Regions from separate parts of the Homo sapiens genome. Here regions 1 and 2 are each linked to region 3. The links come from fine-mapping of genetic effects on gene expression. A gene starts in region 3. Each other region holds a variant in brackets. All regions are shown on one strand. Distances are from middle to middle. Region 1 has its middle 12 kb from the start of MIR3917. Region 2 overlaps PAQR7 (progestin and adipoQ receptor family member 7). Region 3 holds the start of MTFR1L (mitochondrial fission regulator 1 like).

What was found. PIP is the estimated chance that this variant, and not a neighbour inherited with it, causes the effect. A credible set is the group of variants that fine-mapping cannot tell apart.
Region 1: its variant is the best candidate, but not a certain one, in a credible set for the expression of MTFR1L in lymphoblastoid cells (CAP, PIP 0.53).
Region 2: its variant is the best candidate, but not a certain one, in a credible set for the expression of MTFR1L in whole blood (TOPMed, PIP 0.50).

The regions. Positions count from the first base shown.
Region 1 is chr1:25,915,075-25,921,606 of GRCh38, reverse strand. No RefSeq gene overlaps it. Among named protein-coding and RNA genes, the nearest start is that of MIR3917, 12 kb to the right of the region's middle. The variant T/AAT (reference allele first, on the strand shown) is at 3,250.
Region 2 is chr1:25,864,162-25,870,693 of GRCh38, reverse strand. PAQR7 (progestin and adipoQ receptor family member 7) reads left to right here. Exons shown (of 3, transcript NM_178422.6): 2 at 1-85. Among named protein-coding and RNA genes, the nearest start is that of AUNIP, 8.0 kb to the right of the region's middle. RefSeq lists an enhancer at 477-978. The variant T/G (reference allele first, on the strand shown) is at 3,398.
Region 3 is chr1:25,817,821-25,824,352 of GRCh38, reverse strand. MTFR1L (mitochondrial fission regulator 1 like) reads right to left here and starts at 4,399. Exons shown (of 7, transcript NM_001099625.2): 1 at 4,324-4,399; 2 at 1,225-1,334; 3 at 605-709. The coding sequence starts at 1,248. SELENON (selenoprotein N) reads right to left here. Exons shown (of 12, transcript NM_206926.2): 12 at 6,132-6,532. LOC646471 (a long non-coding RNA gene) reads left to right here and starts at 747. Exons shown (of 1, transcript NR_024498.1): 1 at 747-4,399. RefSeq lists enhancers at 3,604-3,693, 4,074-4,213, 5,856-6,356 and silencers at 3,804-3,973, 4,424-4,613.

The sequences.
Region 1 (6,532 bases), 97 kb before region 3:
GGCTAACATAGTGAAACCCCATCTCTACTAAAAATACAAAAATTAGCCGGGCGTGGTGGCGCCTGTAGTCCCAGTCACTCGGGAGGCTGAGGCAAGATAATCGCTTGAACCCAGGAGGCGGGGGTTGCAGTGAGCTGAGATCGCGCCACTGCCATCCAGCCTGGGTGACGCAGCGAGACTCTGTCTCAATAAATAAATAAATAAATAAATAAATAAAATAAAAATGGCAGTACATTAATATATTACTTAAGGAATTTTAAGCTGCATGTTCATGAAATACTGGAGACAAGTATGTCAAAATGTAAACAGTGGTTTAATTCCAGGTGATAGGAAATATGAATAATTGTTATTTTCTTCTTTGTACTTTTTGGGTTTTTAGTTTTTCAACATGCAGGGAAGGGATTCAAGAGTGACTGTGTGACCCATCAGGTCCCTCAGCTCAAAGAACCTGCAATGTTGTGATTCTAGATGGTCATCCTTAAAGTCCTAGCTCCCCGCCCAACCCCAAAGGGCTTACACATTTTGCAGGGCAGGGGAGCCTCAACACTGGCGCTCCACTGGGGAAAGTTCTTGGCTTCCACCAGGAAAGAATTCAAGGGTGAACTAGTGGTAGAAGAAAACAGCTTTATTGAGGCAGCAGTGTTACAGCTCCGTGACTGTTCCCACTGAGGAGAGAGTGGAGTCTAGCAGCTCAGGGGCAGTTCTGCAGTTTCATTTATATCCACTTTTAATTACATGCAAATTAAGGGGCAGGTTATTCAGAAATTTGTTTTTATTTGAGACACAGTCTCACTCTGTCGCCCAGGCTGGAGTACAGTGGTACAATCTCGGCTCACTGCAACCTCCACCTCCCGGGTTTAAGTGATTCTCCTGCCTCAACCTCCAGAGGTGCTGGGATTACAGGTGTGTGCCATCATGCCTGGCTAATTTGTGTATTTTTAGTAGAGATGGGGTTTCATCATGCTGGCCACGCTGGTCTCGAACTCCTGACCTCGTGATCCGCCTGCCTCAGCCTCCCAAAGTGCTGGGATTACAGGTGTGAGTCACCGCGCCTGGCCGGTTATCCAGAAATTTCTAGAAAAAGGTGGTAACTTCCAGGTTGTTGCTAGGGAATGGGTAAACTGTCATGGCACTGGTAGGCACGTCAGCCAGTCTTAAATCTCATTCAGTGTCGAGTCCTGCCTCCTACCTCACAAGGAATGGCCTTGGTGCTGCTGCCCCAGATCCCCTCCCCTGTCTCAAATCCAGGGTTAACATCCCTCAACTTGAAACCTGCTGGAGGGACAGGGCAAACTACTTGCAGTTCAGCTACTGCTCTAGGCTGGCTTCTTCTAGGCATTTGGCTGTGCTATTTCCTCTTCCTGGCACCCTCTCCCCATTCCTCTTTGCCTACAAGCTTCCTTCAGGCCTCATCAGCTCAGCCACCCCTTTCTCTAGGAGGCCTTCCTTGTTTCCCCTCCGCTGCCTGGGTTAGCCTCTGCTCCCCTGCGCCCCATCAGTGCTCTGAGCTGCTTGTCTACTTACTATGAGCTCTTGAGGCCAGGGACATGCCTTCTTTCTTCCTGTGCTCCCAGGGCCTAGTACAAGACATGACACCTCATGGTTCATCAGTAACCTTCTGTTGAATGAATGGACAATCAGCATCAAAACAACAAATTCTTCCCTGGGCTGAGTTTTCTGGTACTCATCCTAAAAACTCTGCGGAAGGTAAGAGGCAGAATCAGGATGTGAACTCAGAGACCCTGACTCCAGAGCCCACACTCTTAACCACTGTGCTCTGAGCCCCTAATGAACTTGGCTGGTTCATATACCAACTATGTATTGAGAACCTAGTATTTGTCAGGCACTGTTCTATGGTAATGAAGAAAACAGACTTGAAAAACCAACTGTTGGGTAATCTATGCTACCATCTGGGTGGCAAGATCATTGGTATCCCAAACCTCAGCATCACACATTATACCCATTTAAGAAATCTGCACATGTACCTCCTGAAATAAAAGTAGGATTTTTTTTTTTTTTTTTTTTTTTTTTTTTTTTAGACAGAGTCTCTCTCTGTCGCCCAGGCTAGAGTAAAGTGGCTCAATCTTGGATCACTGCAGCCTCAGCCTCCCAGGTTCAAGCATTCTCCTGCTTCATCCTCCCGAGTTGCTGGGACTACAGGTGTGAGCCACCACGGCCAGTATTTTTAGTAGAGATGGGGTTTCGCCATATTGGCCAGGCTGATCTGGAACTCCTGGGCTCAAGTGATCTGCCCATCTTGGCCTCCCAAAGTGTTGGGATTACAGGCGTGAGCCACCATGCCCAGCTGGAAAAATTTTTTTTTCTTTTTTTTTTTTTCAAGACCGAGTCTTGCTGTGTCGCCCAGGCTGGAGGGCAGTGGCGCAACCTCGGCTCACTGCAAGCTCCACCTCCCGGGTTCACGCCATTCTCCTGCCTCAGGCTCCCGAGTAGCTGGGACTACAGGCACCTGGCCACCATGCCTGGCTAATTTTTTTTGTATTTTTAGTAGAGACGGGGTTTCACCGCGTTAGCCAGGATGGTCTCGATCTCCTGACCTCATGATCCTCCCGCCTTGGCCTCCCAAAGTGCTGGGATTACTGGCGTGAGCCACCGCGCCAAGCCAATTTTTTTTTTTTTTTTAAGGTATCAGCAGAACATGCTCGTCCTCCTGCCCGGGTGGGGCCTGCACTCTCCAGTGTGCTGCCTGCTCTGTCCCCTCTGGTGCCGCCTCTTCTCCTGACCCCTCCGTAGGGATTTGGGTTATGAGCGCCTATGTGGGAGGGGCAGACTGAGGACCAATTGGGAGGCTGCCTGGTAATCCAGTAGAGTGATGGGGCCTGCATCCACCCCAGGGCAGTACTGCTTTCTCATTCATGCACGGGCTTAGTTGAAAGAGGTCTTGGTATCTAAGAGCAATAAGCCCCCAAGGTCTACAATCGAAGGGGTTCCAGGCTGGGGTGGTGGTTCACGCCTGTAATTCCAGCAGTTTGGGAAGCTGAGGCAGGCGAATCACTTAAGATCAGGAGTTTGAGACCACCCTAGCCAACGTGGTGAAACCCTGTCTCTAATAAAAATAGAAAAATTAGCTGGCTATGGTGGCGTGTGCCTTTAATCCCAGCCACTCTGATAGCTGAGGCAGGGAAATCGCTTGAACCCAAGAGGCTGAGGTTGCAGTGAACCAAGATCGCACCACTGCATTCCAGCCTGGGTGAGAGAGTGAGACTCCATCTCAAAAAAAAAAAAAAAAAA[T/AAT]CAATGGAGTTCCAATGAATGACACATCTGCTTTTCTTCCCCTCCTGTATTTTCTCTTGCACAGCATCCCACCCTTTGCCACCTGACACCCCAGCCACCCCCAGCTTCCCAGCTTGACTTCTACAACGTGTAGACTTTCATCCGTCTCAGAATGGGTGTGATATCAGCAGCCTTCGTTTCCACTTCCTGTGACAGCTGTAACCTCTGTTCTCACTGAATTGCTAAGATTGCTGATAGAAGCCAACTGCTTGGAAGCTTTTTAAGTGACTAGGATCAAGCTCCGTGCCAAGGCATGGAAAAATGGGCTACGGAATGGCCCAGAAATTTAGTGAATTAAACTAGTAATTCCCCCTTGTTTCTAGGCCCACAAGAGCCCATTCAAGAAACAGAGTAGATCTAAAATGAAAATCATTTTAGCTTCATGTGGGAGGAAGCGTCAATCTTCCCATAGGAAGCACCAGAAGCCCAGCAGAGGACAAGAGCCGAGCCCTGGCCTCCTCATTAAAATAAATGTCACTGGCTAAGGAGGCAAGATGCAACGTGCAAGGTGGTATCCTGGATTAGATCCTGTAACACAAAAAGGGACCCCAGTGGAAAAATGGAGAATCCGATTAAATTCAGCCATTCAGTTAATAGTATTGTACCAATGTTAATCTGTTAGTTTGGATAAATGTACCATGATTATGTAAGATGTTAACACCAAATGAAGCTGGCTGAAGGGCATACGGGAACTCCGTGTACCATCTTTGCAACTCTCTGGAAATCGAAAATGGTTGATTTCAATTGAAGTTTAAAAACAAATAAAATAATTTAAAAAAAAAAAAAAGAGACCAGGCGCGGTGGCTCACACCTGTAATCTCAGCACTTTGGGAGGCCGAGGCAGGCGGATCACGAGGTCAGGAGTTTGAGACCAGCCTGACCAACATGCTGAAACTCCGTCTCTACTAAAAATACAAAAATTAGCCAGGTGTGGTGGTGCGCAACTGTAATCCCAGCTACTCAGGAGGCTGAGGCAGGAAAATCACTTGAACCCAGGAGGCAGAGTTTGCAGTGAGCTGAGATGGTGCCACTGCACTCCAGCTTGGGTGACAAAGCGAGACTCCATCTCAAAAAAAAAAAAAAAAGAAAGAAAGAGATGTCACTGGAATAGTCTTTTTGAATTTGCAAGGGACTAGACTGCAGATTATACACTCAGATATGCCATCTGACCTTAAGCCCTAAGTGTTGTTTGGTGGCCAAAAAGACACTGGCCAAATGATTCAACACTCACAGAGTGTCTGTGGCACTTCAGGGATGGCAAGACAGAATCACATAGGATCCTGCCCTGAAGGAGTTTACTCACTAGTGAGAGGGACAGACATGTATATGGATAGCTGCAACAGCAGCATAGTGGTGAGGGAGAGAGAGGTTAGTCAAGACCTTGAAGGTGGAGAGAATTTCAATATAGACAGAAGCCAAGGGACTCAAGGCCTTATGAGGGCTGGTACTGTAGACTGAATGTTGTGTTCTCTCCCACATTCATATGTTGAAGCCTATGGCCCACTGTAATGGTATTTGGAGGTAGAGCCTTTGGGAGGTAATTAGGTCATGAGGCTAGAGCCCTCATGAATGGGATTAGTGCCCGTATAAAAAGAGGAGACACGGAATCTCTTTGTGCTCTCAGCCATCTCAACAAGAAGATGTCTTTCTGCAAACCAGGAAAAGAGCCCTCACCAGCCATCAGATCTGCTGGCACCTTGAACTTGGACTTCCCAGCCTCCAGGACTGTGAGTTATAAATGTTTGTTGGTTAAGCCACCCAGTCAATGTTGTTCTGTTACAACAGCCTGAACTAAGGCAGTTGGTGTCAGCAAAACAATGGGACATATAGGCATGTAACCTTTCAGAGAGCTGCCAACAGTCCAATAAAGCTGAAACTTGGTGGGGGAGTGGAAGGAGTGAGAGTGAATATAGAGGTTTCAGAGACACAGGACATAAGATGGGCAAGGAGGACAAAAGTCTCTTCTATTTTTTAAATATAATTGTTGGGGCAAGGCACAGCGGCTCACGCCTGTAATCCCAGCACTTTGGGAGGCCGAGGCCAGCAGATCACCTGAGGTCAGGAGTTTGAGACCAGCCTGTTCAACATGGTGAGACCCCGTTTCTACTAAAAATACAAAAAATTAGCTGGGCGTAATGGCGTGCACCTGTGATCCCAGCTACTTCGGAGGCTGAGGCAGGAGAATGGCTTGAACCTGGGAGGCAGAAGTTGCAGTGAGCCGAGATCATGCCATTGCACTCTAGCTTGGGCAACAAGAGCAAAACTCTGCCTCAGAAAGAAAAAATATATATATAATTTTTGTCATTAATACAAGTAATACAAGTTCATTTTAAGAAGTTTGGAAAATCCAGAATAGTATAAAGAAGGAAAGCAAACTCAATTGTTATTTTCTTTCCAGAACTATTATTTTGGTGCATTTTCTTCAATGTATTTTGTTCCTAGTCGAACTCATATTGTGCAATTGGGTAGGCTTTGTTTGTTCTATTTAGCGCAATATAATGAGCCTTTCCCCATCTCATTAAAAAAGGACCTTAAAGCAGGAAGAGAGGTCATTTAGTCCACCTCTCTTCTAATGCAAGAATCCCGATTCAACATTTCTGATGTTTGACTTTGTCGGCACATGTCCCATAACAAGAATCTCATTCATGAATAGGTCCCAGTCCATTCTATTGTTGGCTAAGTCCAGTGATCACAGAGCTCTTCCGTTCATCTTAGTTGTGCTTCTCTATAACGATCCATCCGAGAAGACAGATTTTCTTTTTTTTTTTTTAGACAGAGTCTTGCTCTGTCACCCAGGCTGGAGTGCAGTGGCGTGATCTCGGCTCACTGCAAGCTCTGCCTCCCGGGTTCATGCCATTCTCCTGCCTCAGCCTCCTGAGTAGCTGGGACTATGGGCGCCCGCCCCCACACCTGGCTAATTTTTTGTATTTTTAGTAGAGATGGGGTTTCACCGTGTTAGCCAGGATGGTCTCGATCTCCTGACCTCGTGATCCGCCCGCCTCGGCCTCCCAAAGTGCTGAGATTACAGGCGTGAGCCACTGCCACCGGCCCAAGAAGACAGATTTTCACATGCATCAAGAATTAAAGAATCTCAGGGAAAAGGAGGGGGAGGTCCTTGAGGAAGACTGACCTGGAGGTCCTCATGGAGATAAAGACCTGCAATGACTTCACGGAGGGTTATAGCTGCTGTGCCAGGAATCCTTGGCCTCTAAGCCAAGAAAGGGAGTCTTTTTTTTTTTTTTTT
Region 2 (6,532 bases), 46 kb before region 3:
GGACAGGAACCACTGAAGTTTGCCTGACACCATCAACCAGGCCCTAGTCACCTGGCTTTGCCTTTGCCCTGCTGTGTGATCTTAGGTAAGTCAAACTTTTCAGCTGGCCCTCGGTTTCCCCGTAAGTCTCATGCAGAGGTGAATGGTGAGCTGCTTGCTGCAGCAGAGGCCTGGCTAGGAAGGCACACAGTTTAGCATGGATTTCACCACTATGGGAGTGGTGAAGTTGGGGAGGAGAGGTGTGGGAGGTTGTCTTTAGCCCCACCCTCTGGTGACATCACACAAGACACCCCCAGTCCCTGGAAGCCCCGCCCCTAGTGCCCCTCATCTGTGGAAGTGCTCAGCATCTGGTGAATTTGCCCAGTCCCATAGTAGAGGTCACCAGCCCCCAGGCTTGAGAGAAACCCCCAGGTACCCAGTGCAATTTGCCAGACTTGGAGGGGCCCATGGAGGTGGGCTGGGCTGAGCTGCCTGAATAGACAGGGCCCAGCAGCCTGGTGGGCACACGACTCAGAGGCTGACCACTCAGAGGATGCCCTGATGGTGCCCTCCGGATATCCATCCTCATCCTGCTGGCTCAGGCTTGACCCCTGCCCCTGCTTTTTCCTTTCCCCTGGATCAGAGTCCCTTTCCATGGAGTCAGGAGGTGGAAACTAATTCTGAAAACAGACCTACTTAGGTGGAGTGAGGCCTCTAGCTGAGGTCTAAAGAAAATAGGGCAGCGGGGTCTCTGTCATCCTAGCATGGTGCCTCAGGTTTTGTCCATAGGGCCCATTATATCTGGGGGAGGGAGGTATAAGCGAGCGCTGTCACTCACCTAAGGAGGTGGCTTGAGCCAGGGCCTCCCTGGAGAAGATCAGGTGCAAGCAGGTAGCCAGCAACTGAGGGAGACTGAATTGCTAGAAGCCTAAGAAAGTAATTTATAAGAAAGAGCCTGGTTGCCTGCTTTAGACCAGGATTTTGCAAAGTTGTTCTGTAGGATGCAGACAAGTGTGCCTGGAGCAGGGCAGCAGTAGTGTCTGCAAGCATCTACAGCCCAGTCCTGGCTCCACCTCCCTCCCCCATCCTCCAACCTTGGGTAAGGAGCTTTTTTTTTTCCTTTCTTTTTTCTTTTTTTTTTTTTTTAGAGAGTCTCACTTTGTCACCCAGACTGGAGTACAGTGGCACGATCTCGGCTCACTGCAATCTCAGCTCCCCGAGCTCAAGCGATTCTCCTGCCTCAGCCTCCTGAGTAGCTGGGATTACAAGCATGCACCACCATGCCCGGCTAATTTTTGTATTTTTAGTAGACATGGGGTTTCCCAATATTGGCCAGGCTGGTCTCGAACTCCTGACCTCAGGTGATCCGCCCACCTCGGCCTCCCAGTGAGCTGGGATTACAGGTGTGAGCCACTGCGCCCAGCTGGGAGCTTTTGACTTCTCTGAATTTCATTATCCGCAACAACAAAATGGGCAGAATAGTACTTACCTCCCAGGCAAGTTATGAGAGTTAATTGCAACAGGACTGTAAAGAGTGGGCATATAGTAAACACTTTCTACATTTAAACTGGCTTTTTTTTTTCTTCTTGAGATGGAGTCTCACTCTGTTGCCCAGGCTTGAGTGCAGTAGTGCGATCTTGGCTCACTGCAACCTCCGCCTCCCGGGTTCAAGGCCTTCTCCTGCCTTAGCTTCCCGAGTAGCTGGGACTACAGGCACGTGCCACCACGCCCAGCTAATTTTTGTATTTTTAGTAGAGACGGGGTTTCACCATGTTGGCCAGAATGGTCTCGATCTCTTGACCTCGTGATCCACCCACCTCGGCCTCCCAAAGTGCTGGGATTACAGGCGTGAGCCACTGCGCCCGGCCTCAAGTGGCTTTATAATATAATTATTACTACGGAAGGAATCCGTGGTCACATAAGCTTGGCAAATGTTGATTCAACAAAGCTAAGCCAACTTCTTTGCTGCAGGACTTCTTAGAGCTTTTTTTTTTTTTTTTTTTTTGAGAAAGGGTCTCACTCTGTCACCCAGGCTGGAGTGCAGTGGCACAATCTTGGCTCCCGGCAACCTCTGCCTCTGAGGCTCAAGGGATCTTCCTGCCTCAGCTTCCCAAGTAGCTGGGACTACAGGTGCACACCACCACACCTGGCGAATTTTTGTATTTTTTCATAGAGACAGGGTTTTACCATGTTGCCCAAGCTGGTTTCGAACTCCTGATTGCAAGTGATCCACCTGCCTCGGCCTCCCAAAGTGCTGGGATTACAGGCATGAGCCATCGTGTCCAGCCCTTCTGAGAGTCTTTAATGTGCTGTTATATCTTGGGAAGTTCCAAGAGTGGGATATGGAGCACAGGACTGGACTTATCAGATCACAGGCACCCAGGAGCTAGGTGTCCACAGGGCACAGCCATCGCCATCATTCGCTGGTCTTTGCCGCAGTAGTGGAATAGAAACCTTGCTGGGTGGGAGGACTCTGGGGAAGGCCTTCCAGTTTCTGGGCTCTGCTTTCCTAAGTGTAAAACAAGAGAGTTGCCCAAGATGCTTTCAGAGGTCTTTTCTGGTCCCCCCAAGGTTCTCAGTTGGGAAGACAAAGTTGTGGACAAGAGTGGGGGCCAGATTGTTGAGGTTGAAACCATCTCTTGGGGAGATGGAGAAATCCAGAACTGGCTCCCCAACCAGCAAGGCTGGCCAAGGGAGGTCTTGTGCTCTGGATGGAAGTGGCCCCGTCAATTAGTGCAGCAGCAATGTCTGCTTCCTAAATCTGCCCTGTGCCAGGCTCGCTGGGGAATAGAAGAGTCCTGCACATGCCTGTTGTCCTAAGTAGCAGCCCCTGTGCAGCAGTGTAACGACTCCTGCTTCCCCACTGGACTAGGAAAGACTGGGGAGCAGGGCTGATGCCAGAATCCTAATGCAGGAGGAGCTTAGGAATGCAAATCAGGCTCTGGAGATGTGGGCTTGTGGGGGTGGGGTCGTCTTGATGCTGCCCTTGCATAGCAAGCACTCTGCATTTACTTGGACTGTGTGTGACTTATTTGATTGGTTTTGGGGGTGATCACAGTGCCACTGGGGGCAGAGAACATGAATGCTTTATCCTGCCTGAATCTCTTTTCCTTGTCTGGTGACTGGTGCAGAGGTAGTCACAATAAATATCTGATGAACCTGAACACTGAGTCCAATAAGTAAGCTTGGAGGGAATTTATTTGGCAGGCAGGGAGGGATTGTCTGGCAGGTTTTTCAATAACTATTTGAGTTAATGAATAACACAATGAATGACGGTAAGCCTGAATTATGTAATTGAAGCCAGGTAAAACAGTATAAAATTAGGAAACGATAAATAGCCCTTGCCACCTTGTGTTGCAAAGTGCATTTTAGGGTAGTGGTTAAGAGCACAGTGGCTCACATTTGTAATCCCAGCACT[T/G]TGGGAGGCCGAGTGGGAGGGTCGCTTGAGGCCAGGAGTTCGAGACCAGCCTGGGCAACAAAGTGAGACCCTGACTCTATAATAAAGTAAAAATAAATTTAAAAAATCAGCTGAGCATGGTAACATGTACCTGTAGCCCCAGCCACTTGGGAGGCTGATAGGAGGATTGCTTGAGTCCATGAGGTCAAGGCTGCAGTGAGCTGTGATTATACCACTGTGCTCCAACCTGGGGGACAGAGCAAGACGCTATCTTAAAAACAAAACAAGGCTGGGTGCCGTGGCTCACGCCTGTAATCCCAACACTTTGGGAGGCCAAGGTAGGTGGATCACCTGAGGTCAGGAGTTCGAGACCAGCCTGGCCAATGTGGTGAAACCCTGTCTACTAAAAATACAAAAATTAGCTGGGCGTGGTGGCGGGCACCTGTAATCCTAGGTACTCGGGAGGCTGAGGCAGGAGAATTGCTTGAACCCAGGAGGCGGAGGTTGCAGTGAGCCGAGATTGAGCCATTGCACTCCAGCCTGGGTGACAGAGCAAGACTCTGTCTCAAACAAACAAACAAACAAAACACACAAAAAAACAGACTTGAGTTCAGAGCATGCCTCTGCCATCTGCTACTTCCTGGCTAGGTGGGTGGGCAAGGCACTTAACTTCTCTGTACTTCAGTTTCCTTACCTGGAAAATGGGAATAATGATAGTGTCTGCCTCTCAGGGTTGCTGGGAAGCGTCTAGCAGGTGCTGTGTGAGCATTTGCTATGATTTGTTTTTGTTTCTATATCTTTTGCCAGATCATGACATTCCTGAGGGCAGGGATCAAATCTTTCACTCTGTTCTTTGTCCCATCCAGCACAGGGTCTGAGGCAAAGAAGGGCTCAGTAAGTGTTTGTTAAATGAATGAATCAAGGTTAAACTGTGTAACCCATTATAGGTCAGGGGAAAGTGGGATTGGGGGAGCAGTAAGGAGGCCCCAGAGGTGGCAGCTTGTAGTGGTCTTAAAGGATTTCAGTGCAGGGAAAGGAAGGTGGCACAGGGTGTGACATTGGGGTTAGGTGGGGAATAAGGGTAGTAGGAGCAGGTCATGTGGGCCTTGAATGCCAGGGTAAGGGGTTATATTGGATTTATTTGGAACTAGCAACCATGGGCAGTTGGGGGAGGGCCTGGAGAGGGGATTTTGAGAGTGGGGGTGTGGTTCATCAGTTGTTAAATGGGGACTTTCAGGAAAAAAGTGGTCTTTTGAGTTGGGCCTGGAAAGATATGAAGTGTTATCAGAATGGTGTCATGTTGTTCTTTCTTTTTCTTTTTTTTTTTTTTTGAGACGGAGTTTCCCTCTTGTTGCCCAGGCTGGAGTGCAATGGTGCGATCTCGGCTCACCGCAACCTACGCCTCCTTGGTTCAAGTAATTCTCCTGCCTCAGCCTCTGGAGTAGCTGGGCTTATAGGCAGGTGCCACCACAACTGGCTAGTTTTGTATTTTTATTTATTTATTTATTTTTGAGATGGAGTCTCACTCTGTCGCCCAGGCTGGAGTGCAGTGGCGTGATCTTGGCTCACTGCAAGCTCCACCTCTCGGGTTCATGCCATTCTCCTGCCTCAGCTCCCGAGTAGCTGGGACTGCAGGTGTCTGCCACCACGCCTGGCTAATTTTTTGTATTTTAGTAGAGATGAGGTTTCACCGTGTTAGCCAGGATGGTCTCGATCTCCTGACCTCATGATCCGCCCGCCTCGGCCTCCCAAAGTGCTGGGATTACAGGCGTGAGCCACCATGCCCGGCCTAGTTTTGTATTTTTAGTAGAGACAGGATTTCTCCATGTTGGTCAGGCTGGTCTCGACCTCCCGACCTCAGGTGATCCGCCTGCCTCAGCCTCCCAAAGTGCTGGGATTACAGGCGTGAGCCACTGCGCCCGGTCATGTTGTTCTTTCATTCAGCAAACATTGAGTGCCAGCTATTTGCTAAGCACCAGGGATTCACAAAATAATGAGACAAACTGCCTCCCCTTGATGAGCTCACATGAACAATCATGAGAAATGTGAAAATCGTCAAAGGATGGTCTGATGATAAGCACTCAAGTGGAGGGGTCATCGTAGGAGGTTCAGGAGGCCAGGGAAAGCATCCCAGAAGAAATGTTTTTTTGTTTGTGGTTTTTTTTTTTTTTTTGAGACGGAGTCTCGCTGTCACCCAGGCTGGAGTGCAGTGGCGCGCACTGCAGGCTCCGCCCCCTGGGTTCACGCCATTCTCCTGCCTCAGCCTCCCGAGCAGCTGGGACTACAGGTGCCCCCCACCTCACCTGGCTAAATTTTTGTATTTTTAGTAGAGACGGGGTTTCACCGTGTTAGCCAGGATGGTCTCCATCTCCTGACCTTGTGATCCGCCCGTCTCAGCCTCCCAAAGTGCTGGGATTACAGATGTGAGCCACCGCACCTGGCCGCTGTTTGTTTTTTTAAGAGACAGGATCTCGCTTGAGATCAAGCTTGATCAAGCTTGAGAGTAGTAGTGTGATCAGAGCTCACTGTACATCAAATTCCTGGGCTCAAGGGATCCTCCTGCCCCAGCCTCTCCAGTAGCTGGGACTACAGGCACATGCCACCACACCTGGCTAACTTTTTTGTAGAGATAGGATCTCACTACATTGCCCAGGCTGGTCTTGAACTCCTGGCCCCAAGCAATCCTCCTGCTCTGACCTCTCAAAGTGCTGGGATTACAGGAGTGAGGCCGCATGCCTAGCCAAGAAATGGGTTTTTGAGGAATGAATAGGGGTTTGCCTAGTAGGCAAGATGAGGAAAATGTCTCAGGCAGAGGGAACGGCTCGTGTAAAGCTACAGACATGTGAAAGAGCAGTCCAGGGGTTGGTGGGGCTGTGTCTGGATTTGAAGTGCACTGTGGTTGTGCAACAAGACTGGAGAGGGTAGCAGGGACCAGGTCATGCAGGGTAATGGAGGGTCAGTAGGGGACCCTGGCCACTCTTGAGGAGCTAGATAGGTAGAGGCAGTGGGTCTATTAGCAAGGTCATTATTGCCACCAGTTGAACACTAATGGTGGCATGAACACGGGCTGAGAGCGCCTCACCCCTCTCATGTGTTTCACATGGCCAGATCTGTTCTTTAGGAGAGAAAACAGCTGGTGCTGCTGTGTGGAGCCTG
Region 3 (6,532 bases):
TACCACAGAAGGGGTCTCAAGAGACCTGGGCCAGGTAGGAATCTCTGCTGCTGAGTGGGTGCTAAAGGATCCCTAGACACAGAGGTAAGACCAAAGCACCCCAGTAAAGGATGCCCAGATTGGCCAAAAAGAGAAGGCTGAGGAATTATGGCCTCAGAGAAACACTAAAAATAGTGGAGCTGGGCATGGTGGCTTGTGCCTGTAATCCCAGCTACATAGGAGGCTGAGGCAGGAGGACTGCTTGAGCCCAGGAGTTTAAGACCTAGCCTGGGCAACATAGGGAGACCTCATCTCAAAAAATAATAAAATAAAAATACTGGCTACATGGTCAATTCTTAGGGCTGGTGAAGAAAAGCAGAGTTCAACTCAAAAATCACAATAGTCAGTGTCCCATGTGGGGGACCTGTCAGGTTCCTTGTGGTCACAGGTTTGTATGCACTCAGGAGGACACAGTGACCAGGATATCTTATAAGCATTTAACAAATATTTCATAACAGAATGAAAAGTGACCAGGAAACAACCTACTTGGGCAGTACCAAGGGGTTTGGGGCACAGAAGCAGCACTGTCTGAGCCTCTACTCTCCTGCCCTTCCAACATACTCACCTCAAAGGACGCCCGGGCACACGGCTTCAAGGGTAGGTTGGTCCCAATTCTTCTTACTACACTTCGAGCAGCCCCATGTGGCTTGTTTTGCCAGATTGGGATGGTCTGGAGCAAAGAGACGGAGACAGCTACAACCCCAGAGAATGAATCCAACTACTGTCCTTGTCCTCTCCTCTCTAGGTTTGTGGAGACTGAATTCCACAAACCTAGGGACAGGGCACTCTCTAGGGGCAAGTCAACTCTCAATTATAGTGAGGGCAGGTTCCCCAGTTGCCAGCCTACACCCTGGCCAGCCACCCAAGGGAATACCTGCTGCTGCTAAGGCAGTCAATGTTGGGAGGGTCAGGGAAGGGGAGAGGAAGTAGCTGAGTGTAGAGATTATCCAGGCTTTCCTTCCCGTCCTCTGTACAGAAAGGCAGACATACACTGACTCCTGAAGTGCCCCAGGATCATAGTTGGTTCTTCTTAGGGGGAGGGAGTGAAACGGTGGCCTTGCTCCAATTCCAGGCCTCTGGAGAAAGGAGTGCTCAACTGGAGAGTCTCAGAACCTTTTACAGTACTTCAGCAGGCCCAGCACCCAACCTTCCCCACCATACCCCTGCCCTGGGAATGCCCCTTACCACAGTGGCTTCCATTCCTGACATTTGAACCAGCTCCTGCACTTGAAGGACAAGGCAGCCACTGGGCAGCTCCGGGAGGCGGGAGGCGTGACTCCTTCATATCAGGCCATCTGGAGGAGCACCAGATTTCCCTCTTGTGAAACAACCCCCCACAGTGGGGATTTAATGGTCACCACACAAGCCCCAAAAAACCAGGCCCTGCAGAGCCATGACTTCACAGGGGAGAAAACCAGCCCAAGAGGCTGCCCTCACCCAACACTTAGCTCTAAGTCCAGACTCTTAAAGGTTCTGTTAAAGATCTGCGGCCAGGCGCAGTGGCTCACATCTGTAATCCCAGCACTTTGGGAGGCCGAGGTGGGCGGATCACGAGGTCAGGAGAGCGAGACCATCCTGGCTAACACAGTGAAGCCCTGTCTCTACTAAAAATACAAAAAATTAGCCAGGTGTGGTGGCGGGCACCTGTAGTACCAGCTACTTGGGAGGCTGAGGCAGGAGAATGGCGTGAACCCAGGAGGCAGAGCTTGCAGTGAGCCGAGATCACGCCACTGCACTCCAACCTGGGTGACAGAGCGAGACTCCGTCTCAAAAAAAAAAAAAAAAAAAAAAGATTTGCCTAGTGAGCTTGGCCAACCCAAGAGCCTTCCTGGGCTCTCAGGTTTCTTGAGGCAAAACTTCTAAAGATGCAAATAGAATCCTTGGTAGCTACAAAGCTCATCTAGCCAAATTATAAGTACTATCCAAGCCCAGGATTCATTCTTGAAGATGAGATGTAAAAGCACTGCTGGGCCCTTGCAAAGGGAGAGATCAGAGAAAATAGGAGAACGAACACCAGCTCATGCCAATCTCAGTCTCATGAGCTACAGAGAAAAAGAGCCAAAAAAGTTTATCCTGGCTCAGCCACCTTCTGGCTTTGTAGCTACAGGCAAGTTATTTAACTTTTCTGAATGTTGGTTTTTCCATCTGGAAAAAGGAGACAGGAAAAGCTGCCACTGGAGGCTACCTTAAGGGTCAATGAGTGAAATGGGGTTGAGTGCTTAATGAACTGTTAAAACATGACACAGATGGGTGAGGTGACATCTGACTGCTCTTCACAGCAGTCCTTGCATGGTGAGCAGATGCAATCAGTGTGCTCGTTCATTCACTTGTTCATCAAACACCAACAGTACCCACTTGTGCCAGGCCTTGTGCTGGGCACCGTAGGGGCTATGGAAGGAGTAAGACACAGTCATGCTCTCAAGGAACTCGCTGTCCAGCAGAGTGATAGGACATGAATACATACTTCTAGCAAAGGCTGAGTAGCATTAGGCAGGTGGCCAGATGAGGTCAGAGCTCTGGCCCTAGTGCCCTGTAGTAAGTTGCGAGGGAGTAGGAAATGAAGACAAAACAGCAAGAGCACAGGTCCAGCACAAGAAGGTGAAGGACATGGAAAGAGGAGCAGAGCATGATAAAGCTACAAAAGTAGGGGGCAAGTCATGAGGTCCGGGTCACTGGGGAGCCCTGGACAGGCTCTGAATGGGAGATAGACTAGACTGACAAAGCAGCTCTTTCTGGAGACCTCCTGTGGAGGGTCCCCTCTTCTACCCTTGGGAGACGAGGTGTCATTCACTTCACGATACACATGGGGAAAGGAAGTTGGACAGGGGAAGGCACTTGTCTAAGGTCACTCAGTGGTCATGCCAGTGCAAAGCACCCAAAGCCTGGTCCAGGTCCTGCCACCTCCTGCGTGGGCTCCATCTTCTCGGCTCAGTTCAAGCCTTTATTATCAGAGTCCCTCTGTGTGCCAGGCTCTGTGCTGAATGTCCGTGTCGGCCACAAATTGCACTAACGGTGCTTACTGCCACTTCCTCTCCGACCTTACCTCCAAAGACCCAGCCGGGCCTAACCCTCACACACAGCCAGAGGAATCCTTCCCAAACACAGTTAATCACATCGCTCATCCGTTTAAAACTGGCTTACTAGAGCCAACACAGGATAAAATCCACAATCAGTCCCAAACCCATCTTTCTCTGCCGTCTCTAGACCACATTCACTGAGCACCAAGGCCTGCACGCTTCGCAGCCAGCCCTCCTGCTCTCCCCCTTGCCCTCCAGCCACACTGGCCCTCAACCCCCAACACTGGGCCCACCTCTGAGCCCTGCATCAAACACCAGCACCCCCTTCGCCGAGCTCATTCTTCATCATTCCTCAGAGCTCAGCTTAAGCATCACCTTCCTTCCCTGCGACAGGGTCAGGTCCTTTCCTGTGCGCTCCGCAGCACCCTGCCTGTCCCTCGGAGTCCTCGCGAGAGGAACTAGATAACTGTGATCCCCGCGCACAGCACGGTGTCTGCCTAGGACACAGTGAGCGCTTCAACGCGCTGAACTAAACGAATGAAGGGGAACACCAACTCAGCTGTCACCCCCGCCCCCAAGTGTCACTGGCTAGAAGATCTTCCCCCGGTTCGCCGGCAGCACCGGTGGGTCTTGTCACCTCTGCGCCCCGCAGCCCTCCGGAGGCTGCAGTTGCTGTCTGCTGACAGGCGTCCCCTCAGGAGAACGGGAGCTCCTCCAGCGCAGGGCCCTGCTCAGCACCCCTGGTCCCGGGGGCCCCCACGGAGGCCGCCGCGCTCAGTGAAACTTTGCCGCGCGCAGCAGTGGCCGGAGACCCGCGCGGACCCTCTCCCCGCGGGGACCCGCCAGGGCGAGTCGCCCCTCCCCCGCGGCAGACGACCCGACCTGGGCCAAGGTCGGCCAAGTGCTCGCCGCCTGCCCAGCGGCCCTTGGACCCACAGGACCCGGACCCGAGTGCGCGGAAGCCTCCGAGCCGCGGCCAGGTCTCAGAATGCGCGGCGGGGCAGCCCGGCCCGTCAAGCAGCGAAGCCGAAACTAGAAGCCTGAGGTCTGGCTTGGTCACTGTTTGCTGGGGAACTCCGACGAGCAACTACCCTTCGGGGACTCAGTTTCCCCCGGGCCAAGTGAGACGGACAGCTGCGGCTCCCGCGAGAACTCGCGCGGGAACAGGAGCTGCGGGCTCCGCACAGCGCCCGGCACGTAGACCCAGTCTACTAACGGGCTGGAAGGTCGCGCTCCCGCCTCCGCGCCTCCCTAGAACCTTTCTCACCTCAAGCTCGGGCTCCCGGACTCTCTCACCTCACGGCCCCTCCTTCCACCTTGGGCCGCCCAGCCTCAACCGCCCTCACTTCCGCTGACCCGCCCCCCGGAAGCGATCCTCCGCAGCTGCGCACCGAGGCGCACCTCCGCGCACCCTCAGGAGGCGGGTCCAGCTCGGTGGCGAGGGGAGCGCGGCCCCCGAGTGGGCGAGGCGCTGGCGGCTGTAGGCTCCGATACCGCGGAGCACACTCCCCTCCATCGAGACCGTGCCCCCGCGGGGTCTGTGTCCCCGGGAGGAGTTGGCTGCGTTTGGAGATCCCTCGGCCTGGTATTCGTCGCGTCTCCCTGCTTGTTGCTCTCCACGTTTAGCCCCATCCGACTTCTGGAAGCCCAGGGGTGTGTCGCTCGACCCCTAAAATATGCTCCTACCCCTAGGGCAAACTTCAGAATCCTCACCCTGGCCCCCTTCCCAGTTCTTGGTTCCCAGGCAGGTCCCTTTGCAAAGCCTCTCTCCAGCAAGAATGCGCAGAATGGGCCTCTTTCTCCTCTTGACTCCTGCCCTCCAGCACTTTGCAGCTTTCTTCTATTTTAGCCTCTCTCTCTCTCTCTCACACACACACACACACACACACACACACACACACACACACACGGTATATTCAATGAGTTTGCTTATTAGATGGGTACTTGATGTACAAGACTCCAGAGGCTCTGTGGGAAGAGCCACATTCCTTCCAGGCTCACTAACCCACTCCCTCTTTGTGCTCCAGCCCTCACTGTCTTGGTCTGTGGCATGCAGTTCCTGGGTCACATTTCCTTCTCTGCCTTCAGCACAGCCTCGGGCTGTGCCTGGCTCCCAGGCTGGAGTTCCTTGGTTCCAAAGCCTGCAGTCCCCTCTGCCAGAGACAGAGCTGGTTTCATGGGTGAACAGCCCATGCAGTCACAACGGGCCGCATGCTCAGAATCCTGTACTTGGTTTAGTACTTTGCTGTTGCCGTCTTGAAATGATTTTCTAATAGGGGTTCTTGTGTTTTCATTTTGCACGGGGCTGTGCAAATTATGTGACTGGTCCTGGCTAGAGACCTCAGAGGTCGTCCACCCTGATCTCCACCATATCTCAAACGCTGAAGATTGACTTCCAGGTCTGGCCCTCTTCCCAGGATGGCACATTGTGTTTTAATCATTACCTTTCCCTCCTGTGCGATGGCGGATCATGCAAGTCCACGCTGGCTGTCTGTCCTGGGTGTAGATGCTGATTTGGTGTCCCACTCAGATCCCCTTGCAGGAAGAACGGAGCTCCCTACCTGGGAATTTCCTTCACCTCCCAAGCCAATGACTGATAAAAGGTCCAAAAGGCCAGTTCAGCTCTGCAGTGTGGTTTATGCCCCACAGCTCTTCCACTGTGGGTCAGGCCAAGGCTGGGCTGAGACTGTTCCTGCTCAGCATTTTTCCTTTCCCTCTTCTGCTTCCTTCCTTCTTTTACTGGTTTTTCTGGAAGTACACTCCCCCCCAGCCCCACCAAACAAACAAAACAAACAAACAAAAAAACACTTCATGCCTGTCTCAGGCTCTGCTTTTAAGACAATGATTTTAACTCCCAGATCTCTCTCAACAGAGAGCACCAGATTCTCAAAACAGTAAGTCCTACCACTTGTTCTATCGTAAAACTTATTTTGGGCAAGTCACTCAAGCCTTCGATAGGTAAGATAGTACCTGAAAGCATTCCAGCTCAACTCTGCCCCAAGAGGGAGCCACCCCATGGAAGGACGGAGCTGAGCAACATGCCACTCAAAGGAAAAGCACTTAGAACCACTCTAGTTAGTCTTCTCTAATTTTATTACAGGGCATGTTGGGGACAGGGGAGGGAAGTGTTAGAGGAGTGACAGGGCAGCCCGGGGCCCTCTCCCACCCTGAGCCTCGAGGCCTGGTGGGGGACATGAACTGCAGAGGCATCAGATAAGGCCTCAGAAAGCCCAGGCCATCATTTTCCATGGGACCAGGCTGGCTCAATGTGGAACTGGCCCTCCCAGAGCAGCAGGAGAAGGGCTCGCATGGGCTGCCCCCGTCACCTGTGCCTGACAGGATGGGGGGGGAGGCAGAGAGAGAGCATCAGACGCCCTCCCTCCCCATAAGGGGCATGGGGGATGGGGACACTTCCTCCCAGGACACAGGGAGCCTGGCTGAGCTGGCTGGCTCATGCCCCATCTGGTCTGGAGGTC